2 separate regions of the Homo sapiens genome follow, and region 1 is linked to region 2. Evidence: fine-mapped expression QTL. A gene starts in region 2. The other region holds a variant in brackets. All regions are shown on one strand. Distances are between the middles of the regions. Region 1 overlaps SH3GL3 (SH3 domain containing GRB2 like 3, endophilin A3). Region 2 holds the start of SH3GL3 (SH3 domain containing GRB2 like 3, endophilin A3).

The links. PIP is the estimated chance that this variant, and not a neighbour inherited with it, causes the effect.
Region 1: its variant is fine-mapped to the expression of SH3GL3 in spinal cord (GTEx, PIP 0.99).

Annotation. Positions count from the first base shown.
Region 1 is chr15:83,574,037-83,585,947 of GRCh38, forward strand. SH3GL3 (SH3 domain containing GRB2 like 3, endophilin A3) reads left to right here. Exons shown (of 9, transcript NM_003027.5): 6 at 2,547-2,705. Among named protein-coding and RNA genes, the nearest start is that of ADAMTSL3, 74 kb to the right of the region's middle. The variant C/T (reference allele first, on the strand shown) is at 5,446.
Region 2 is chr15:83,441,452-83,453,362 of GRCh38, forward strand. It overlaps SH3GL3 (SH3 domain containing GRB2 like 3, endophilin A3), which reads left to right and starts at 5,890. Exons shown (of 9, transcript NM_003027.5): 1 at 5,890-6,127. The coding sequence starts at 6,083. RefSeq lists an enhancer at 5,586-5,745.

The sequences.
Region 1 (11,911 bases), 130 kb after region 2:
GGTGGGCAAAATATCCAGCACAAGCTGACCAGAGGGCCAGGGCTGTGAGAGCAGGCAGGCTCGGGGACCTCGGTTGTGTGATATGGCCAGGGGATAGGGTGTGTAGGGGTGGGGGTGCAATGAAGGGAGGAAAGGCTGAGAGTCACGGAAAGCCCTGGATGCCTGTCCAGGCAATGTATTTAGAATTTCTGCTGAAAGCAAAGGGTATGAGGGAGAATTCAGGAAGTTTGAGTGAGAAATGAAAGCATCCATTCAGGAGCTCCCTAAACATCCCATTCCCCACCTGCACACCCCTTGGCCCCGACACTCATACCATCCTCTTCTTCCATCTCAGGGGAAACATGTCCCTGTTGCTCTCAAGCCAGTCCTCCTCTGGGCCGCAGGGTCTGTCACCTCTCACCTCCTCAGGGCCGTTGTGACATCCATCGTCCTCTCTGGTGTATCTTCATTCTTTCCCTTTCTGTCTGTTGGCTTCTTCCTGTTAACATTTACACACAGCACAGCTGCCCTTGACCCCTGGTGTCACATCTCACTCCCTCCTGTCCATTCTCCAGCCCACAGCCAGGGCACCCTTTCTGAGCTGCAAACCTTCCTGGCTGCCCACTGACAGTGGGGTGAAGATATAGACCCTCAGCCCTTCACAGCCTGGCCCCTCCTTTCCTCTGTGGCCTTATTGCCACCCCTTCCCCACATGAACTCTGCCCAGCCTCACTGAATTATTTCCAGCTCCCTGGTGACGTTTTGCTTTGTGCTTTCTCGCTATTTGCTGTCTTTGTCCTTTCACCCCTTCTCCTGGCTGTCACCTCACCCCTCAGCTCGGATGTGCTTTCCTTTGGGAAGCTGTTTGTTCTTTCGCTAGACTTCGTGGGGTATCCCTTCTGTGCCTCTGTGTCATGAGCACCGTTGCTTACCTTTTGCTCATGTTGGGCAGTCCATTCCTCGGGGTGAGTGATCGTGGTTTGTTCCTTGTAGTCACAAGCCTCCCACGTGGTTTGTGCTCACACATTATTTTATTTTTTTAATTTTAATTTTTGTGGGTACGTAGTAGGTGTATATGTTGGTGGGGTACAGGAGATGTTTTTGCAAATTATTTTTGAATGGTTGATTCTAGAGAAGTGACAGTCTGGGTTCTGGGGATGCCAAAACATCTCCCCCAAATGCACAGTTGTAAAACCAAATGCCTCCTTTGCTGACATATAGCAAGTTTTATTTCTTCTTGTGCTGTCATCATGGAGGAAGGTCATATGAAAAGTCAGCATTGCTCCTCCACCTGGCCAACCACAGACACATATGTGGTCCTGAGTAGTAAGTGGGTGAAATGTGTAAAACACACTTATTCTGAAATGTTGCAGTTCTCTATGCAACAAAATAGTTTTCTAAATGCCATCTTGTTACTCAGCTGCTGTTTGATACAGAACTGTAAATCTAAACTTAAATTATGTGGATGATGGAAAGTTAAGAGTCCAAGGTTTAGGAAGCCTTTCATAGTCTCAGCTATGCTCTGTGTCGCTCAGAAATCAGGGGTCAGGGGCCTGTTCATTTGACATACGGCTGACTTTCAGGTGTTCATGTAGAGGTACAGAGGGATTAGGGACCAGCCCAAAGTCACAGAGCAAAGAGAGAGATGTTTCTGACTCTCTGGGTCTTGTGTGCTCTTTTCACTGAGTCATGGAAGTTAGAAGCAGTGCTTCCTGCTAAAATGAATAGTGCGAGCTATCCCCATGCTTCAGTGGGATGATCAGTTTCTACATACACTTTCGATGCCTGGTATCTGATTTCCGAGGATTATAGCCATAAACTCTCCAGGGACCCCTCCCTTGTCCTGTATAGCTATCCCACTCAGCACTGTTTCTGACACGGGGTCTCTCTGCTTGGACACAAACTGTGATGGGAAACCTACTGCTACGCAAGGCAGCCTGTTCCATGAGTGGACAGTTCTAACTGTTATATTTTGTTAAAGCGGTTATAATATTGTTTAGAAATTTTACTGTTTCAGAGGTTGTCTGTGAATCTCTCTCCTTTGCATTCATTAACAGCGTTTTACGCAACTTATTTCTTGATTGTTTGGGAACTTTACGGAGATCCGTTAATATTCTAAGGGATTGTAGAAGTTTGTGATTTTATAGTCTACTACTTAGTCAGGAGTTGACAATAGTACCAAAAGAAATGTTCCTACTGTGTTTTGTTTGGTTAACCTGGTTAGAAATTATCTGGACATTAAGAAGGCTGAAGTGAGGGATCGTATAAAGAACGTTGGAAAATAATATCTGAGCATGGCTACTGCATCATTACATTCCATAAAGACACTCATTCATTCTATCACCGATCTGTCCATTCATTCATTCATTCCACAAATATTCCTGGAGCACCTGAAGTGAGGGGAGCCTCCATCAGGTGCTGAGGTGCTCCCAACAGCAGTGTAAGGTGGGTTCCTGCCCTCTGGAATCTAGGCCGAGAAAAAGCAATGACCATTTTAATAGAAATAATTTTTTGTGCCAGGTTTTGAATGTAGCACCTCTCTGAGGGACTCCATTCTCTTTTTTTAGCATCACCTGAAAAAGCTGGAAGGCCGCCGCCTGGATTACGATTATAAAAAGAAACGAGTAGGTAAGATACCAGACGAAGAAGTCAGACAAGCGGTAGAAAAATTTGAAGAGTCAAAGGAGTTGGCTGAAAGAAGCATGTTTAACTTTTTAGAAAATGATGTAAGTATTTAAACCAAATAGGAGATTTTAATGTAAATGAATGAAACATTGAATATATGACTATGATCGGCATGTTGAAAAACTCTAAAGCAGGAGTGTCCAATCTTTTGGCTTCCCTGGGCCACACATAAAATACACTAATACTAATAATAGCTGATGAGCTTAAAAAAAAAATCATAATTTTTTTTTTTTTTGAGACGCTGTCTCGCTCTGTCACCAGGCTGGAGTGCAGTGTCTCGGCTCACTACAACCTCCGTCTCCTTGGTTCAAGTGATTCTCATGCCTCAGCCTTCTGAGTAGCTAGGATTACAGCCACGCACCACCACACTCGGCTAATTTTTGTATTTTTAGTAGAGATAGGGTTTCACCATGTTGGCCAGGAGGGTCTCGATCTCCTGATCTCATGATCTGCCTGCCTGGGCCTCTCAAAGTGCTGGGATTAAAGGTGTGAGCCACCACCCCCGTCCAATCTCATAATGTTTTAAGAAAGTTTATGAGTTTGTGTTGGGCCACATTCAGAGCCATCCTGGGCCACATGTGGCTTGTGGGCCACAGGTTGGACAAACTTGCTCTAAAGCCTTAGTTGTTATGCAAGTTTCTAGAATTTTCTCCTATCTCCTGCCTGAGAGATTGATTGCTTCAGACATCCAGCAAGCCCTGACTCACATCTTTTTTTGGAGACAGGGTCTCACTCTGTTGCCCAGGCTGGAGTGCAGTGGCACGATTGTGACTCACTGCAGCCTCGACCTCCCAGGCTCAAGCGATCTTCCCACCTCAGCCTCCTGGATAGCTGGGATCACAGGCATGCCACCAAACCCTGATAATTTTTTGTCAAGATGGGAGTTTCGCCATGTTGCCCAGGCTGATCATGAACCCTTGGGCTCAAGCCACCTACCCGACTCAGCCTCCCAAAGTGCTGGGATTACAGGTGTGAGCCACCACGCCAGCCCCTGACTCAATATCTTAAATCTTGAGGAGTCCTGTTTATCCCAGGATTGCTTCAGAGGTTGTCTCTGAAGATTGCTAAGTAGACTGGCTTTTGTATGTGAGGCCATAGGATTTATGGTTTCACAGGAGAATGAAAAGTCGAGGTCATGTAGTAATTTGCCATTTTGCTGAGACTGAAAAGTACTTGGCAAGGCAGATGGTTAAGGGAGAACAGCTCTCTTATCTGGGGGGCGGACAGCCGCTGTCATCCCCCAGCTCTCTGGTGCCTTTACCTGTCATAGCCCACATTGAGGACACAAAAGCATGACCCAAATTTTTCAGCTGTTCCATAGTGGTGCTTGTGGGCTCGGGAATTGTGAAGGTCTCGGATCTTATCCCTCAGAAGTGCCAATCTTCTATTGTACTGTGGTTCCTGCCATTTGCTTTGATTTGATTTGTCCAAGTAAAGTCAAATGAAATGGAATTAAGGAGGACGGTGACTCCTGACCAGGCAACACGCAGCTGGGGGTGGCCTCCCTGCTCGGCCTTGGGTTTAAGGGGCCATTGGCACTTTGACTGCCTGAGTGGAAGAGGTGTCAGCCACCTGCCTCCCTCCGGAGCCCCTGCCCTCAGCCTGGCTTCAGCGATGCCAGGAGCTGTCTCAGCCCCAGCATTAGTATGGGACCTAATTGTTAAGTTTTTAAACCTGTGGGAACAAGTCAGGAGGTTTATTTATCCTCAAGACCATGTCGTCCTTATAACAGTTTATTTAAAGGTACACTGAGGTCTTACATCCTTTGAGTCAAGTCAAAATGCATTGAGCACCCTTTATTTACCATGGTGATGTATGGAGGAATTATGTCCAATACTAACAAGACATTCATCCTGGAGAATTTATTCTCCCAACTGGAAATGCCAATTTGAAATTTCCCATGCCCATTAAACCACTGAGGCCTGAAAAGTACACTCTACTGTGTTTCTTCTTTTAATTTTTTTTTTTTTTTACATTTTTTTTGGGAAATAGGAGGAGGTGTGACAGTTTGGTATCTCTGTTTTTCTTTAAATGTATAAATTTCCTCTTGAAATTGTCCCCAAGCAACAGCGATTTTGTTTTGTTTCAGATTGCCGTATTGTTTTGAAGTCTTTAGAAAATGTATTTGAAGTGTGACATGTATCAGATACTCCTTGTTGGGCCATATGGAATGTTGCCCTGCTGGCTCCAGGCCCATTCATGGCTTAAACTCTGAGATTGTGTCTTGTGTGTCAGATGCGCCGTCTGACCCATTTGTTCCATTCACTGCCTTCATGCGGGAACCACAATGATGGGTTTTTGCGAAGTGCTCCATGAGGGAAGCCTGTCTGAGCCACGCCGGCCTTAGCAGTTGACCCAAGAGACCTCAGTTTTCCCCCTCAGTATCAGTCAAAAGTCAAAAAGGATCCCTTCATTATAAAAGCTCAATCATTTGTCCATGTTTTGACAGTAACACGTATTCTGCCTGTCACAAATGGGTTAAGTCCTCCCACCCTGCCCCAGCAGAAGTAAGAGCTGGTTCCTAGCCCAAGCTCCGCAGGGGCTCTGGTGCTGGCCTTGCTCCGGCCTGGTTGCAGTGTTTCCTCCAAGGCTTCCTGTGGGAAATTGACCTGCAGGTGAGTGGAGGTTTCCCCTGTTCAGCTCTGGGGAGTCAGGGCTGCTCCCTCAGCCTGGATCCTGGGGTCTTCACCTTCACAAGGAGGGGTTGTCTGGCTTCTACTTCTGCCATTGAGGTGGGAGGAGACCAACGTTATGAAACGGAGATGGGCCGCCCAGGCTGCC[C/T]GGGAACTAGGCTCTTCCCTCCTTCCTGCTTCCTGCTTCCTGCCATCTGTAGCTGCAATGGCTGCTAGGTGTGCTCTGGCTGCTGCTTCTTGCGGTAATGGTGGTGATCGTGATAATGATAAAGACAGTGGTGATAATGATGATGACAATGACAAGAGCTACCATTCACTGACACCCCATGATAAAGAGGCTAAGGGGGTGCTGTTGATGGTCCCTGTCATGGTGCATGTGCGTTTACCTTTTCTCCTACCCAGGTTTATAGCTGAGGAGACTCAGAGATGATTGTTTAGGCTTCAGAAGCCCATCTTACTCTCTTCTTGGGGTCAACAGCAGTTAGATCAGAGGGAATCACCTGATCCTTTTCCATGTCAGTGTGTCTGTGCCATAGCCAGGTGGTCTGACCATCCTCTCCTGTTGACCAGACAAGCTAGAGAAAAATCTCCTGCTGGTCACTCCTTGGACCTGACATGCCAATGCCGATACTGCCTGGTGCTTGGGGATAAACAGAGAATGTGACTAGTTGGGAGAAAGACAAAATGCCAATACATGGTTGATGGGGCATACATTGAACCCTTGGCCCTGTGTTTGGCCCATCTCCAACAACCAGGCCAGAGCTGGTGGCCTTGTAGCCCATGGGACTCTGGTTTCCTGCTCCCTGTGAGTCACAACCCGCACGTCCAACCTTGGTCACTCAACCTCTTGTTGCCATGTTGCTTCCTTTCCTGGTGGGGAAGTCCTGCATGAGGAGCTGTGCTTCGGGATGGCTGGGGAGGGCTGGATTTCCTGGCAGAAACTAAAGATGGCTGGGACCTGTTCTAATCGCCATGTCAAACACAGTGGGTCTTTGGGTGCTGCTGCCTGATGGATTGGACGGTGTTTCTACCTGATCTGGTACCTGCTGGAGACAAGGTGCACAAACTGTCAAATGAGTGGCTGCAAGGGAAGCCTGGTGGCAGGCAGCAGAGGCCCTGACACTTCCTCCAGACACAAGTGGGACATGCTTCTGTTACTGTGGTGGGAAGTTTGGGGATGTCAGTCACAGCCATTCACCCTTTGGGTTCTGACCAATGGAGGAAGTGACAAAAAAGCCGGATTGGAATCAAGGGACATCTCTTTAACTGATGAGAATGCTTGAAAATTGTAAAATACAGACCTCCTGGTCAACTGTGCTGAAGGACATGGCCTGGGCCTAAAGTCCTGTTGGCACTTTCCCCTCCTTGCACCTTCGGTGGATGACAGCCAGCTCTAGGGGAGAGCCCGCCTGTCTTACCACCCAGATACAGCCTGAGACGCTGAAGCTGGGTGAGTGGGAGCCTTGCTGGCCCCAACCCTGCAGAGCCAGTGACTGAGGCAGAGCAACCCATCCTACTAACTAGGGAGCACCCCCAACCTCATCCACAAGAGGAGGAAGAGGAGGGCCTGGCGAGAGGACTTAGAAGCATTCGCTCCAAAGAGAAAGTGAATAAGCAGAGAAGCAAATGAAGGGAAATCCTCTGAGATGGGTGTGCTTGGTGCTCTTGTGCTACCTGTCCATCTCTGTTTGGCACTGACAATTCAAAGACCAAAATCTCACCCTGGGGGAAGAGCTGGTGCCTTCTCCAGCCCTCATGTCTCATCATCCTGGCTAAGACGCAATAAAAGCTTCACCGGGGAATGCCTCAAAAGAAACTGTTTGCCAAAACTCTGACTGATGTGAGGAGAACCCTGACTGGAGTTAACAGACTTGGTCTTTCCTGGGTCTCCAGATGTAGTACTTCCTAGGGTTTTCTGGCCAACAGGCCATTTGCAGGGATTTCCAGGGTGTGGTTGTTCACTGTCCTCACCTCTGCATTCTCCCAACTGAGAAACAAACCCAGGGAGCCACATGAGATCACATGCCAGCCCCTTGCTCAGAGAGCAGGGCTCTCTAGAAAGCCATGTTGGAAGGGGCAGCTTGGGCCTGGGCCCACAGTAGAAGTCCAGTGAGCTATTCCTGGCCTGAAGTCTAGACCTTGGAGCCCCTGCAGAGAGAGCGGGTGCAGAGACCACAAAGCCAGATGACACACGATCTTGTGGCCACTTCACAAACCCACTTTCTTGAGAAATCCGGAGCCCAGAGCCAGGCCCCTACTGCCTTTCCTTGCAGTGTCTAGGTACCCTGGTTATTAGGGCCAAGTGGGTGCCACTCCCGTAATCTCACCAGTTAGATGAATCACCAAAGGAAGGGGAGGTAGAGAGACATGACATGCTAACTCTAACATTCCTAAGCAGAAGTTTTATCTATTTTCTCATCTATTTTTGGCAGAACTGGGAATGGGAGAATGAAGAAGAGTCTCCTTCGGCCCCACACTGTAGCCTTTGGTTGTCTTGTGAATGGGAGCTGGATTAGAGACATTGAGCATCTCTTCACATCTTGCCTGAGGCTGAGCAGTGTCGTTATTCTATAGGCAGTGATGCAAGCCAGGAGGTGTTTTGGTTCTCCAACTTTCCAGGGATCCAAGAGGGGCAGTCCCATGACTGATTTCTCACCAGGCCAAGTTGGGCTTGGCAGGGTCCTGAGAAGTAACCAGGGCAGCCCTCCTCTTGGAGGAAAGTGTGGGAAAGTCAGCAGACTGGTTACCAGCCTTCATTGCCGTATCTTGGGAACACTATATCACCCATAGGCTTGTTAACACACTGTCACCTCTTCTGTCTTTGCAGAGAAGTTTATTCCTCATTATTCCTCACAACTTACTAGTAGCAAATGTAGGTCTTTGACATTAGCAGAAATCAGAGATATTCCATAGAAGATGCCTATTTCAGTCCAGTGAGTCCAGGCACCTGCAGTACTGGCTGTCTTGGTATACATTCACCAGCTACGGGATCCTCCTTCCATTCATGGGTTCCCAAGACCAGTGGAATTACTAGATTCCAGATTCCTGAGGTCTTTCCATTGGTCTAGAGTAGCATTTTCCAAAATCCATTCCATGGGATGTTAGTGTGTTTTGCATTAATAATGTCTCTGTGGTCACATAAGTTTGGGAAACCCTGGGTTAAATAAAACTAAACAGTTTCTTTATCACAAGACTTTTCAGAGTCTTTATTTGACAGTATGAAAGATTAATCTCTAAGCGGTTCCTAACAGAAAATACAGTTGGCAGTTTACCAAACTTATTTGACCGCAGAATTCCGTCACATTATTATATTATTACTAATGTTTCAGGACTGTAATGTGTGGAATAAGATGCATTAGGAAGTATTGAACTTGTAGAAAGCATACCCAGCAAGGCGTGAGATACCTGAATTCTGTTTCTGATTTTGTTTCTGCTAAGCCTCTGGGAAAATCATTTCACCTGACTGGTATCAGGCAAATTAACAACTGCATTTGAGAAATTCTTTAGAAGGATAAAGTGGAGAATAAAAGTGTAAGGGATTATTATCCATGTTATTAATTTAATTGCCTTACTCAAACTTTCTCAGAAACTCTGAATAAAGGCTTTTGCCCCATTGGAAAAGTCATCTGTTTATGACCAGACTGCAAAATACATGAGAAATTTTCCACAGCTTCTCTGAGGAATCCAAAAAGAGTAGAGGTCTTTGATATGATAGAGCAAGAAATTACTGGTATTATTACACTGTAAATTGAAGGTGACCTCTATGGGAAATGTGCCTTTTCAGTTGTGAAAGAGAATGGCTTGTCGTCTTTTGAAGATGTACACTTCTTTATTCCTGCATGCCAAACACACTTGCAGACCCCAGGCGTCTGGACAGGCATCAGCTACTCACATCACAGTTCTCTCTCTGTCCTCGCCATGGGCTTCAGGGTGTGCTACTCTCTGCTTACTCACCCGGCTGCTCACCAAGTCCCCTGGTAAGGGATTGCTAAAGGGTCAGAGGAGGAGGGTTCCCAGCCCTGCTCCTTCTAGGCACCCCAGTTTCCATAGTCCTCTTGCAGAGTTGGCCTAAGACAGCCTTGGTTACAGTATGCAGTCCTTTGAGCCATTCTTCCTTTGGGTACAGCCTAAGCCTTTTGCAGTTGGCTCACAAGGCCAGGCCAATGGCTCAGATCTTATGCAAGTGTCCCTGGGGTTTCCATAACTCCTAGAAACTTCTAGTATCCTTAGTCCATTGTAGTTGGGGACATCTATTCTCTGTTTCCATCCCCAGGACTAAGATACTCCCAACGGCCATATATGCTGCTAATCATCCATTGGTTTCCAGCTATAGAGAGGTTTGGAATGAAATGCATCCACAGGTGACACACGTGTGTCACTTGTGGATTGTTTATTGTGTATAGTCTGCCATGGGAGATAAATTGAGTTAATTCCTGTTTTGGGGTTATCCCTCAGAAGAGAGTGAGGAGCCCTGGGATACAGCCAAACCAACAATGAAGTCCCCAGGCCCAGCCACGATGGGCCCATTACCCCCTGAGCTTGGTTCTTATGCGTCTCCAGGCAACAACTCCCATCACCATGAATGGGGGTCCCTGGGCAGCACTAATCTCATTGTTAGGTTTTTGCATAGTTTGAGGATGGGCTAAAGCAGCTCTGTATCAGTTTCCTATTGGGGCCATAACAAATGACCACAAACTGTAGCTTAAAGCAACACACATTTATTGTCTTCCAGCCTAGAGTCCTAAAATCAAGGTGTGGGTAGGGCCATGTTTGTTCTGGAGGCTCTTGAGGAAGAAGCTGCTTCTTTGCCTTTTCCAGCTTCTACAGGCCACCTGCATTTCTTGGCTCATTCTTCGCTTCCTCCCTCTTCACAGCCAGCGGCACAGCATCTTCACGTATCTCATTCTGACCTCTGCTTCCATTGTCATATCTTCTCTGACCTTGGCACTCCTGTCTCCCCCTTAAAGGACCTCGTGATTACATTGAGCCATTCAGACGTTCCAAAATAATCTCTTCATGTTAAGATCCTTAACTCAATCATAACCGCAAAGTCCCTTTTGCTATGTAAAGTAACATATTTGCAGGTTTGGGGAATTAATATTTGGACATCTTTGCAGGTTCCATGATTCTGTCTACCTCAGGCCCCCTCTGGTTTTATGGTTCTGTGTGTCTCCCAAGTTGCTTCTTCACAGCCCTCACTTCACACATTTGTCAACCACCGAGGCCTGTGCCTCCTTGACCTCTAACCTACATGGAAGTCAGCTTGCATTATGAGTTTCTCACTTCAAACATCAGCTGAGTGTGAGCCCATCTGTAGGAGCTAGAGTGCTTCACTTTCAGAAAAGGGAGTGGATTCTCTGGAAATCCAGTTCCTTGGCGTATATCACGTGAACATTTTCATGGGTGAGGTCACACTTTGCTCTCAAGATGGCACCAGCACAGTGTCAGCCCAGGTCTCAACCCGGAAGTGGAATTAAACCTTTCTTCCCACCCCAGGTGACTTTCTCTGATTCAACAGATGGACTGCTGAAATTCCAACAATGGAAGAAATGTTTTACCTTTTGGTCAGGTTTTGGCTCTTGCTAAGCCTGAGTTTGTTGCTTTATCTTGGTTCTGCCTGTCTAGGTATTTATTTCTAATCGTGGTTCAGGAAGCTGAATGTACCTGTGTTGGTCCCCATGGTCCCCAGCACACAGCTCAATGCTCATGACCTGGGGGACAGCTGGAAGCTTCAATTTTCTGAAATCAAGAGGAAAATAATCTATCGTAGCACACCTGGTCTTTACTGTCAACAAGAGACTTACAGCCTAGTAGCCAGCCCTTCAGGACTTGTACTGAGCACCTGCTAGGTGCAAGCATTGGGCAGTGCTGCCATTGTTTCCCAAGGTTTAAGGGTTTTCAGGATTCATTTCCTTCCCAAAGTCAGCCACCCAATGAGCAGTTACGAATGCATCTCTAGATTACATCACCTTGTGTTTTAGCCACGACAGGGAGGATAGCTGGTAATCCCCTTGCCCCCTTCCTGTTCCCCAACCCCAAATATGTTTCAAGAAATATTAATTTAGCTATCTTTCACTATTTCTTTAAAAATTATAAAATGCAAGCATTTTTTAAAGTGGGTAATAAGACAGGGCAAATAAATTTTACTAAAGGCAGAGAGGCATAGCATAGATTTTGCCAAGCACACCACTCTAGCACTGTAAGGAAGAAAAATTGTTTCTGTAACAAATTCTACTACGATCGTGCTAGGCCATGGCCCTGGACTTATTTAAAAGTACGTGTAAAAGCCAAAGAGATGAAATTTAAGAAATCCTTAGGATTTAGTAGGGGCCAGGCTGTCTTTGTTTTGTTTATTGGGTTTTTGGAAATTTAAGGCTAGGCTTGTTGCTTTTCCAGCCACAGAGCATGGTAAAGTAAATGAAACCCGACAGGATTTCATTGTTCGGATGCTGATCACAGCTTGGCACACATGGAATTCAATGTGTCTCTTACATGCATATTGAGCCCGTGTTTAAAATAGTATAAGTGAGTAAGAAAAATTTAAGTACAGGCAACTAAAGAATGATTTGCAACTACAAATGAAAGTAGCTTGGATCTTTGAAGGCTAAGTCCAT
Region 2 (11,911 bases):
CCAAATTTCCTCTAAATGTTATTGTATAATAGAAAATATATACTTATGAAAATATTTTGAATTTCAAACAGTTTCACAATTCTTTTATCTCAAAACTTGTTTTTAAATTCTCGTCACTCCATCTTTGCCCCCGTGTCTTAAAACCAACACTCTGCACCCTAGTCTCCCCCTGGTTCATTTGCTGTTTCAGAAAAAAGGTACTGGGCCCATTCTGGTCTCTGCCTGAGGGTTCTCATATGGAGCAGGAGGTGGTCTGAGTAGAAGGAGGTGATGAGGTGGCCCTAGTGGATGTGCTCTGACCATGGCTCATTCTAGTCATGCCGTGGCTTCCATAAAGTGTTTAATTATTGATGCTGATAGAGAATATAAATTCAAATATATTTTAGGTCAGTGGTAATCACTCATTGAGTAAAAATTAGATGAATAATTTCCAAAAGCAAAGAGGAAGAAAAAGCAAAGAAAATCTGAGTAATAGATAGATAATAATGATAGAAGAAAGAACTATGGCTGGGCATGATGGCTTATGCCTATAATCCCAACATTTTGGGAGGCCAAGGCAGGAGAATCACTCGGGCCCAGGAGTTTGAGACCAGCCTGGGCAACATAGTGAGACCCCATTGTACAAAAAAAAAAAAAAAAATCAGCTTGGTGTGGTGGCATGTGCCTGTGGTCCCAGCTACCTGGGAGGGAGAGGTGGGAGGATCACGTGAGCCCAGGTTGTGACTTCAGTGAGCCATGATTGTGCTATTGCACTCCAGAGCCTGGGTAACAGAGCAAGACCCTGTCTCAAAACAACAACACAACAACAACAACAACAACAACAAAAACCCAAAAAAAACCCAAAAAGGAACTATGTAGAAGAAAAATAATAACATACCACACAATGACAATTTTTCTTTTTGTAATAAATATAAATGCTTAAATCTCTCTAGGAAACGGCAAAGACATATTTTGGTCCAGAAACAAAATTAAATTTTACTCTGTTTATAGCAGCACGTGTCTACAACAAAATGAAAGGCCAAAAGACCAATTAAGACATAAGAAGCACATATACACAAAAAGTAAGGATACAAATATGGGTATGTGGCAAAGTAAAATAGAAGGCAAAAAGCTGTAAGTAGGACAAAATATGTTTTTTTCTACAGATAAAAGAAAAAATCGACAAGGAAGATATGACAATAATAAATACCTATAAACAGAATACCATAGCACTGAAATGTTTAGAACAAAAGTCCCAAATATAAGACGCAACAGACATAATCACAATTGTAGCAAGAGATTGTAGAGTAGAATATAGTACCTCTCTTTGACGAATAAAGTAGAAAAATATGTAATCCCAGCACTTTGGGAGGCCGAGGCGGGCGGATCACGAGGTCAGGAGATCGAGACCATCCTGGCTAACATGGTGAAACTCCGTCTCTACTAAAAATACAAAAAATTAGCTGGGCACGGTGGCGGGCGCCTGTAGTCCCAGCTACTCGGGAGGCTGAGGCAGGAGAATGGTGTGAACCCAGGAGGCAGAGCTTGCAGTGAACCGAGATAGCGCAACTGCACTCCAGCCTGGGCGAAAGAGCGAGACTCCATCTCAAAAAAAAAAAAAAAAAAAAAAAAAGAAAAATATTGGAACACAGAGCATTTGAACATGCTCATACCTGATTTATGAGATATATGATGGGATATTTTGAACATTAATAAGCATGCTTCCCTCCCCTTCTAACCCCTACCCAGAATTCTTCTGCCCCCCAACAATGCCCCCCAGATAGATATGAGTCACTTGCTACAGAACCAGACACAAGGAATGCAAATACTCATTAGACTCAAAAGCTGGCCTGGAGGTGAGTCAAAGGCCACAAGAAAAAGAGCATAGGCCAGGAGCAGTGGTTCACGCCTGTAATCCCAGCACTTTGGGAAGCTGAGGTGGGCTGATTGCCTCAGCTCCGGAAAACCCCGTCTCTACTAAAATACAAAAAAAAAATTAGCTGGGCATGGTGGTGCATGCCTGTAGTCTCAGCTACTTGGGAGGCTGAGGCAGGAGAATCACCTGAACCCAGGAGGTGGAGGTTGCAGTGAGCCAAGTTTGTGCCACCTCATTCCAGCCTGGGCGACAGAGCGAGACTCCATCTCCAAAAAAAAGAAAAGAAAAAAAGAAAAAGAGCTTAAGAGAACACTGAAACCTCTGCCAGAACATGGGCCATCTGGCAGAGTGCCAGAGACAACCACAGTGTCCCTCTTGTCATTGACTTGTGAAGACCACCAAATGCCCAAAAATCCTTCAGTTCAGAGGGATGTGTGTCAGTGCCTCAGGACACTTCCCAGTCCCCATCAATTTCATTCCATATGTAGACAAATCTGTCAAACAGTCCAGGACACTTGTATACACTTGTACCCCCCTTCCCTAAACAGAGGAGCTGTGGGCCCTTAGTGATTGAAGGGTGATGGTGACGTGAAGGGGAAAGCCTTGAGCTGGCCAAGGGGGCTCTAGCTAGCATGAGTTGGAAATCTTCCTCTGAGCTAGAAGCTGTGTAGAATACACACTCTTGTTACAGATGAACTAAAAAACTGTACATTAGAAACACAAAATGAACAGTATTTCAAACCTCTATGATATGTGTTTACAATGAAACATGACAGGCTATGTTTAAAAAAAACCTTTCAAGACATGTTATTTGACGATAGTATCACAAGTCTAGAATTTAACATAGAATAAATTTTAAAAAATCAAACCACCTAGAAAAGGTTTTTTTTTTTTTTTTTTTTTTTTTAAACAGAGTCTCACTCTGTCGCCCAGGCTAGAGGGCAGTGGCACCATCTTGGCTCACTGCAACCACCACCTCCTGAGTTCAAGTGATTCTCCTGCCTCTGCCTCCAGAGTAGCTGGGACTACAGGCATGCACCACCATGACCAGCTAATTTTTTTAATTTTTTTTATTTTTGAGACTGAGTCTCACTCTGTCGCCCAGGCTGGAGTGCAGTGGTGCGATCTTGGCGCACTGCAAGCTCCGCCTCCCAGGTTCATGCCATTCTCCTGCCTCAGCCTCCCGAGTAGCTGGGATTACAGGTGCCCGCCACCACGCCTGGCTAATTTTTTGTACTTTTTAGTAGAGATGGGGTTTCACCGTGTTAGCCAGGATGGTCTCGCTCTCCTGACCTCGTGATCTGCCTGCCTCGGCTTCCCAACGTGCTGGGATTATAGGCGTGAGCCACCATGCCCAGCCTAGAAAAGCTTTTTAAAAAATTATCCTGAATAACATTTGGATCAAAGAGGAACTCAAAACTGTAATGACAAGTTTTATTTAGAAAATAGGAGATCCATATCATTCATGAAAACAAGGTATGAAACCAAAGCCATACTCAGGAGGAAAATTTATAGTTTTATAAAAATAAATAAAAGACATGAGATTAAGGATACCCAAATACACTTTAATGGGCATTTGTTGTTGCTTATATATATTATTTTTATATATATTCTCTAATATATATTATATATTCTCTAACATGGTATATATTAAAGAATGTATATATTATATATATATAATATATGATATAATATATATATATATAAAATTTGGCTGCCTAACCTCTGAAGCTTCCTCCTATAGTAGGGAAATCTGCCATGGAGTGAATCCACCAATCAGATGCTGCCCTTGCTACTATGCAGCTGGAGTGACTGCCTGAAAGGGCAGCCTTCATTCTGGTAGCCATGGCCAGGGCTCAGTGGCAGAGCCAGCATATCCCAATCAAGCTGTTCCTGGACACCCTGTGGATCTCAGTGCTCAGATTCCTAATTCCTGCTCATCCCCTCCACCTTGTTCCCTACACCCCTCCTGTGAATCTCCAGGCTGCCTGACATCCTTCTCCAATACATATTTTCCAGCTTATGTTAGCTAGAGTCAGTTTCTATTGTTAAAACCCTCAAACTCTCACTAGTCTTCTGAACAAAAGTGAAGGAAGGAATGTGTAAGAATAATGAAAGAAAAATCAATGAGAGAGAAAAATCTGTAGCAATGATGAGTACCTTCAAAAATATTTTGAAAGACCAATAAAATCAGCAAACCTCCAATAAATCTATTCACTGAAAAAATTAAGACAAATCACAAAAACTTTTACAAAGGAGAAAATGTATATGAAAGATTCTGAAGTTTAAAAAGTATGATCTTCAACTCTATACTTGATTAATGAAGGAGATAAATTACCAAAATCAACTGAAGTGAGAAACTTGAATGTACTAACGACTGTGGAGGAAATGCCAATAAACTGTTTGAAAAAAAAGCACCCCCCTCCTCCCAAAGGGCACAGAGCCGGATTGGTCTAGGGGGAGGTACCATAGAACCGGTGCTATTTAAACCTCTCTGGAGCATGGAGAAAGAGGAAGCTGAGCAGCCCTGAATAGCCTAGGACAAGAGAGACCTGCCAATCCTGGACTCCAGCTGCAGCTGGCTCTCTGCCTTATGTAGTGGTTGGCCTGCGGTGAAGCCCACTGTTGAGAGGCATTTGAACTGTTGTATGGACAGGTCATCTTGCTACGCCATTCTGACCCAGCTGTCACCACCCTCACACTTTTTAGTTATCTATCAGTGGCTGGTGTCAGGCAGGTAAGCCCACAACACTCACCCAAGTCATGCTCATTAACCCTCTGACTGGCTGCCCTTATCCCACGATCTCCACTAAGTTCAAGCATTTTTTCCCCAGTATCAGAGGAGGAACACTGTTTATTCCAGTCTACATGCTTCAAGTAGAAGTGAGGAAACCAAGGCCCAGAGAGGTGTGTACTTACTTGCCCAGTCCTCACTAGGATGAAGTCAGGGTTAGGACTAGCCCCGACTGGGCGCTGGGAGCTAACAGCTAGGGGAGGAACTGCATGACTTTTGTCCTGGAGAAATGTTATGGCAGGTGGACACCAGGGCACAGGCATATACCCGAAGTGTCCAGGGCAGACAGGGACTGCTCGTCACCCCAGATGGGACCTGCTAAGGGCCCAAAAAGAGACTGAAGGTGGGAAATGTTTTTGTTTTTCAGTGTGAAGCGTTGCCAAACATATATTCTAGGTTTGGGAATCCTCGGGACCTTTGGAAGCCAGATTCAGCGAAGATGCTGTACCTTTTGGGGATAGCTCTAACACGAGGTTAACGCAATGCTCCATGTCCCTGGCTGGGCTTAGCTGTGAGTGCGTCGACCTCTGGACTCTGTGCAAATGGACACTCTGTAACTGACACAGCTGGTAGGGGTTACCGAGAGAGCTGGGTTCCTGGTCTGGTGGACTCCGCCGGATATGCAACGAGCTCTTTATGGCACCTTGGAGATGGTTGCTTTTAGTGCCGTTGACAGCGGGCTCAGAGCACCAAGTGAGCTAGCACCGTATTTATTAGTAAATTACTCCATAACTCTAGGGCTCCCAGAAGACCAAAATCATTTGAGCAGATTGCACCCAGAGCACCGCGTGGAGAGAGAAGAAAGCCCGCCACCCACAGACCGCTTCCTCCTACCACAGGTCCCCCATCGAGTTGCATTTGTTGTCCCTCCCTAGGCGCATTTCTGAGCCTTCCTTTCTTAAACATACACCGAGCGAAAATGCGCCGGAGGGAGGCGATGTTGCCTGTGAGCCAAAGCCGGTTCGGCACCAAGACAGAAGCAGAGAGAACTGATCTCTCTCCCGGTACCCATGACAATCTCAGAGCTAGATCTATATCGTCCCGCGCCCAGCAAGAAGCACTGTGTGACTGTACTCCCCCGACCCCCAGGACATCCCCACGCCCAGCTTCCCAGGCCGGTCTTCTGCGCGGCTCAAGTAGCCCAGGTCTCCACGCAACAATGAAGCGTGGGCGGCCCCAGCAGCTTCATTTGCATATCGCCGCGGCTTGGCCAATGGGCTGCGCAGGGGCTTTGGAACGCAGTGTTGCCATCGGCGTGCGCGCGTGTGTGCGAGTGTGACAGCGGCTGTGGCTGTGGCCGTGGCCGTGGGAGGCGGGCCCGGCGGAGCCCAGCCGCGGGGGGACCGGCCCGGGCTCCCGCTCCCCGAGCGCGTCGCGGCCGCGTGGCCCAGCCGAGCCTTGAGACCACCCCGCCCCTGCCGGTCGCAGTCGCGATGTCGGTGGCCGGGCTGAAGAAGCAGTTCCACAAAGCCAGCCAGGTAGGGAGGCGCAGAGGAGGGAAGGAGGGAGGGGGACGCGGAGGCTGCGGCCCCCCGAGGCTCCCGGGCCTTTGGGACTCCTGTTCCCTGAAGGGCCTCTCTCGGGGCTCAATTTCTTCCCGCCTAGGAGGGCGCGAGGGTGGGGTGAGGGGCCGCCTGCTCTCTCCTCGGCGTCTTGGCGCCTTCTCCTTCCCATTCCCTGGCCCCCGGCTCTGCCCTGGGCCGTTGTAAATCGGAGAGATTCTGCGGAGCGGAGGGCAGAGGTGGCGGCCGCGGGGACTCGGGAGGCGGAGACGGAGTGGGCGTGGGGGGGCCCCTACCCGCGCGAGGGGAGGACGACCACAGGGAGTACGATGCCGGCAGGGCCTCCCCCGAGTCTCCAGCCGTTTGGTTGGGAGAGCCTCGTGGGGGGCCCATCCTCCACCGGCCACCGGCGCCTCCAGAGATGCTGTGTATTTGGCGCTTGGCTGTGTCCCGCTGAGCTCCCCGCGCGCGCATCGAAATGGCCCCGTCTGGACTGTGCCCGGCTCCCCGGCTGGGGCTCTCTACCGCGGTCCTTCCCCTCCCCACCGTCTTCCCGGTGTCGGCCCGGGGCTGGGCATCACGCTTCTGCTCTTACAGAGCTGACAGCCTGCAGGGGAGACACGGAGACAGACACGTAAACAAACAGTGCTAGACACACCTCCACGCACAGAGGATGACAAATAACACAGTGGGGGCGTCAGGGAGAGCTTCCCGGAGGAGGAGACATGTCATTTGAGAATTAAGTATGAGGAAGAATTATGGCTGAGGGTGTGGGATGATAGGAGGAAAGCCGTTCTGAGCAGAGGAAACAGGAAAACAGGAGGGGAGACATGAAATTGATGTGTGTGTGTGTGTGTGTGTGTGTGTGTGTGTGTGTGTTGATGACAAGCAAATTTGTTTTTCAACATCAACATTGCAGGCTCTTCCAGCTATGGCAGAGCTCACGTTGTAAAACCTGTTCCCCACCAGCACCGCTGGGTCTGTTGCTTCTCACCACCTCTCCCCGCAACCCCAGCCCCCATTTTGCTAGAGCCAGGGTAGACAGATTTCATTCAACGTCCACATTTGTGGTGAGGTCTCATCCTGCTTCTCCCACAAATTGGCCCATAGAAAGCAACTGCAATTAGAAGATTCTCTTCTTCTAGCCCCAGTTCCAGGCTGAAAGGCACTGCTGTCCCCTCACTCACACTCTTTCCATATGGAAACTGGGTGATGCTGTTTCTAGCTGGGGGCACTGGGTGGACAGTGGTGCTATTCAAGGTGTTAAGGAGCCCTGGAGGAGAGGCTATTCAGGTGAGGGTGGAGATGATGGATTCACCACTGAACCCAGGGACTTTGAGGGGTCTTTGGGACATTCACATGTCACTGGCCTGGGTTGGGGTGCATATCCTGACCTGCAGCTCAGGGGGTGAGGCTGGTACTGGAGCTACAGATTTTTGGTGATTTCCAGCCTAAGCGGAGATTTAAAAATGTATGTGTAGACAAAAGTGAGAAAAGGCACAGCGAGTTAAAGGCAGACTCTAGACAGCACCCCCATTTAGGGACAATGTTTAGCCCAGTAATTGTTGAGCAGTGACCACTCAATAAATATTTATTGAATAGATGAAATTTTGGGGTGGCACAACACAGGAAAGAAAGAACTCGTAGATGACAGGAGAGAGAAGACCATCATGGAAGGGGGACATTTAAAGGCAGGAGCAATCAACAAGTGCTTCAGTGAGCTAGGTATTGTGGAGTGTCCTCAGCTGGTACAGCCAGGAGGCCGAGTGCTGCTGTGAGCAGAGCAGAGCAGAGCAGTGCCAGAGTAATCGCTGGCTGTACTTGTTACATTGGCTTCCTTAGCACTGGCAGGAAATGAACCTCCTCTTTTGAAAACTTTTCCTTTATTGGGTATGGACTTCACAGGGGCAAATCTCAAAGATAAGCAAATCTCAGAGATAACGTAAGCCCTTGGGTGATTTAAGTTGGTTTCTGACAGTAACCAGAATGAATGGTTGAAATCCTTGGAAGTTATTGGCACTGGAGAAATATTTTGCTAGTCATGGGTAGTTTGGTTTAACTACCTGTAATCAGTACATTAAAAATGAAATGAACAGAACGTCTTATTTAGTCTTTTTTTTTTTTTTTTTCGCATGAGCGGAAATAATTTATGACTTTACCTGAAAGGAGAGGCATCACAGATTCTCTCTGGGCTTCATAGCCATGTTTTGTGGTTAAAAGTACTCAGTAGATATGTTTTAATATGTTCTAGAAGTCTTTCTAAAAAATCTTGCAATGCAACAATTTGGTGGAGAAATCAGACCGGTTTAATATAATATGAGGGAGCTCAATAATAAAAAATGCCAGATGTTTTTCTCAGACAACATTTTAACAGCAGGTTTTAATTCATACAGAACTTACCTGGGGCAGGGGAAGGGAGCCCCAGATGATGTCAATGGCTAAAATAATTTCCAGGGATCTAGGTCTGGCTCAGCCACTGACCAGCTCTGTAACCTTGGGAACATAACTTAACCCATCTGGACCTTGGTTTCTATCTGTATGATGACTCAGGGAATTTAGAAGCTATGTTTCTGTTATAAAAATGATTGTGGCAATGGTTTCACAACTCTGTGAATATGCTGAAAACCACTGAATTGTACACTTTAAGAGAATTGTATGGTATGTGAAATATATCTCAATAAAGTGATACGAATATGTCTCTGTGTCTCTGGGTGTGTGTGTATGTATACATCTCAGTGCTGAAATTCTTAAGTAAGTTAAGCATTTCAGAGTAAGACAAAGATGATAAAGTGGACCTTTTACAGAGAAGGGATCCAGGACCATGGCAAACTGAGATAGTTTTCTGAAAGATAAGCGAGGTAAAATTAGCTATAACCCGGTTAACTGTTCCTTTTTTCCTGATACCTTCCCTATCTCTGGGAAAAAACCCCTACTTTACAGAGAATGAAGACTCGTAAACCCTGGGGATTATGCATCATTTTGGCAGCACATGGAGACCAACAGGAAAGAGGAAGAAATATGCTAAAATGAGAAGAATATAAGTTAACAAAAAAATTTAATTAATTCTAAGTTTCAGCGTTTGAGACTAGAACCCAAATTTTTCTTTTTTTTTTTTTTTCTAATATGCATTATCCTTTATTAAAATGGGATATTTTTCTTTTTTTTTTTTTTTAAGGTTATAGATTTTCTTTTTTTTTTTTAATTTTTTTTTTTCTATTATACTCTAAGTTTTAGGGTACATGTGCACATTGTGCAGGTTAGTTACATATGTATACATGTGCCATGCTGGTGCGCTGCACCCACTAAAGTGTCATCTAGCATTAGGTATATCTCCCAATGCTATCCCTCCCCCCTCCCCCGACCCCACCACAGTCTCCAGAGTGTGTTATTCCCCTTCCTGTGTCCATGTGATCTCATTGTTCAATTCCCACCTATGAGTGAGAATATGCGGTGTTTGGTTTTTTGTTCTTGCGATAGTTTACTGAGAATGATGATTTCCAATTTCATCCATGTCCCTACAAAGGACATGAACTCATCATTTTTTATGGCTGCATAGTATTCCATGGTGTATATGTGCCACATTTTCTTAATCCAGTCTATCATTGTTGGACATTTGGGTTGGTTCCAAGTCTTTGCTATTGTGAATAGTGCCGCAATAAACATACGTGTGCATGTGTCTTTATAGCAGCATGATTTATAGTCCTTTGGGTATATACCCAGTAATGGGATGGCTGGGTCAAATGGTATTTCTAGTTCTAGATCCCTGAGGAATCGCCACACTGACTTCCACAATGGTTGAACTAGTTTACAGTCCCACCAACAGTGTAAAAGTGTTCCTATTTCTCCACATCCTCTCCAGCACCTGTTGTTTCCTGACTTTTTAATGATTGCCATTCTAACTGGTGTGAGATGATATCTCATAGTGGTTTTGATTTGCATTTCTCTGATGGCCAGTGATGGTGAGCATTTCTTCATGTGTTTTTTGGCTGCATAAATGTCTTCTTTTGAGAAGTGTCTGTTCATGTCCTTCGCCCACTTTTTGATGGGGTTCTTTGTTTTTTTCTTGTAAATTTGTTTGAGTTCATTGTAGATTCTGGATATTAGCCCTTTGTCAGATGAGTAGGTTGCGAAAATTTTCTCCCATGTTGTAGGTTGCCTGTTCACTCTGATGGTAGTTTCTTTTGCTGTGCAGAAGCTCTTGAGTTTAATTAGATCCCATTTGTCAATTTTGGCTTTTGTTGCCATTGCTTTTGGTGTTTTGGACATGAAGTCCTTGCCCACGCCTATGTCCTGAATGGTAATGCCTAGATTTTCTTCTAGGGTTTTTATGGTTTTAGGTCTAACGTTTAAATCTTTAATCCATCTTGAATTGATTTTTGTATAAGGTGTAAGGAAGGGATCCAGTTTCAGCTTTCTACATATGGCTAGCCAGTTTTCCCAGCACCATTTATTAAATAGGGAATCCTTTCCCCATTGCTTGTTTTTCTCAGGTTTGTCAAAGATCAGATAGTTGTAGATATGCGGCATTATTTCTGAGGGCTCTGTTCTGTTCCATTGATCTATATCTCTGTTTTGGTACCAGTACCATGCTGTTTTGGTTACTGTAGCCTTGTAGTATAGTTTGAAGTCAGGTAGTGTGATGCCTCCAGCTTTGTTCTTTTGGCTTAGGATTGACTTGGCGATGCGGGCTCTTTTTTGGTTCCATATGAACTTTAAAGTAGTTTTTTCCAATTCTGTGAAGAAAGTCATTGGTAGCTTGATGGGGATGGCATTGAATCTGTAAATTACCTTGGGCAGTATGGCCATTTTCACGATATTGATTCTTGCTACCCATGAGCATGGAATGTTCTTCCATTTGTTTGTGTCCTCTTTTATTTCCTTGAGCAGTGGTTTGTAGTTCTCCTTGAAGAGGTCCTTCACATCCCTTGTAAGTTGGATTCCTAGGTATTTTATTCTCTTTGAAGCAATTGTGAATGGGAGTTCACTCATGATTTGGCTCTCTGTTTGTCTGTTGTTGGTGTATAAGAATGCTTGTGATTTTTGTACATTGATTTTGTATCCTGAGACTTTGCTGAAGTTGCTTATCAGCTTAAGGAGATTTTGGGCTGAGACGATGGGGTTTTCTAGATAAACAATCATGTCGTTTGCAAACAGGGACAATTTGACTTCCTCTTTTCCTAATTGAATACCCTTTATTTCCTTCTCCTGCCTGATTGCCCTGGCCAGAACTTCCAACACTATGTTGAATAGGAGCGGTGAGAGAGGGCATCCCTGTCTTTTGCCAGTTTTCAAAGGGAATGCTTCCAGTTTTTGCCCATTCAGTATGATATTGGCTGTGGGTTTGTCATAGATAGCTCTTATTATTTTGAAATACGTCCCATCAATACCTAATTTATTGAGAGTTTTTAGCATGAAGGTTGTTGAATTTTGTCAAAGGCTTTTTCTGCATCTATTGAGATAATCATGTGGTTTTTGTCTTTGGCTCTGTTTATATGCTGGATTACATTTATTGATTTGCGTATATTGAACCAGCCTTGCATCCCAGGGATGAAGCCCACTTGATCATGGTGGATAAGCTTTTTGATGTGCTGCTGGATTCGGTTTGCCAGTATTTTATTGAGGATTTTTGCATCAATGTTCATCAAGGATATTGGTCTAAAATTCTCTTTTTTGGTTGTGTCTCTGCCCGGCTTTGGTATCAGAATGATGCTGGCCTCATAAAATGAGTTAGGGAGGATTCCCTCTTTTTCTATTGATTGG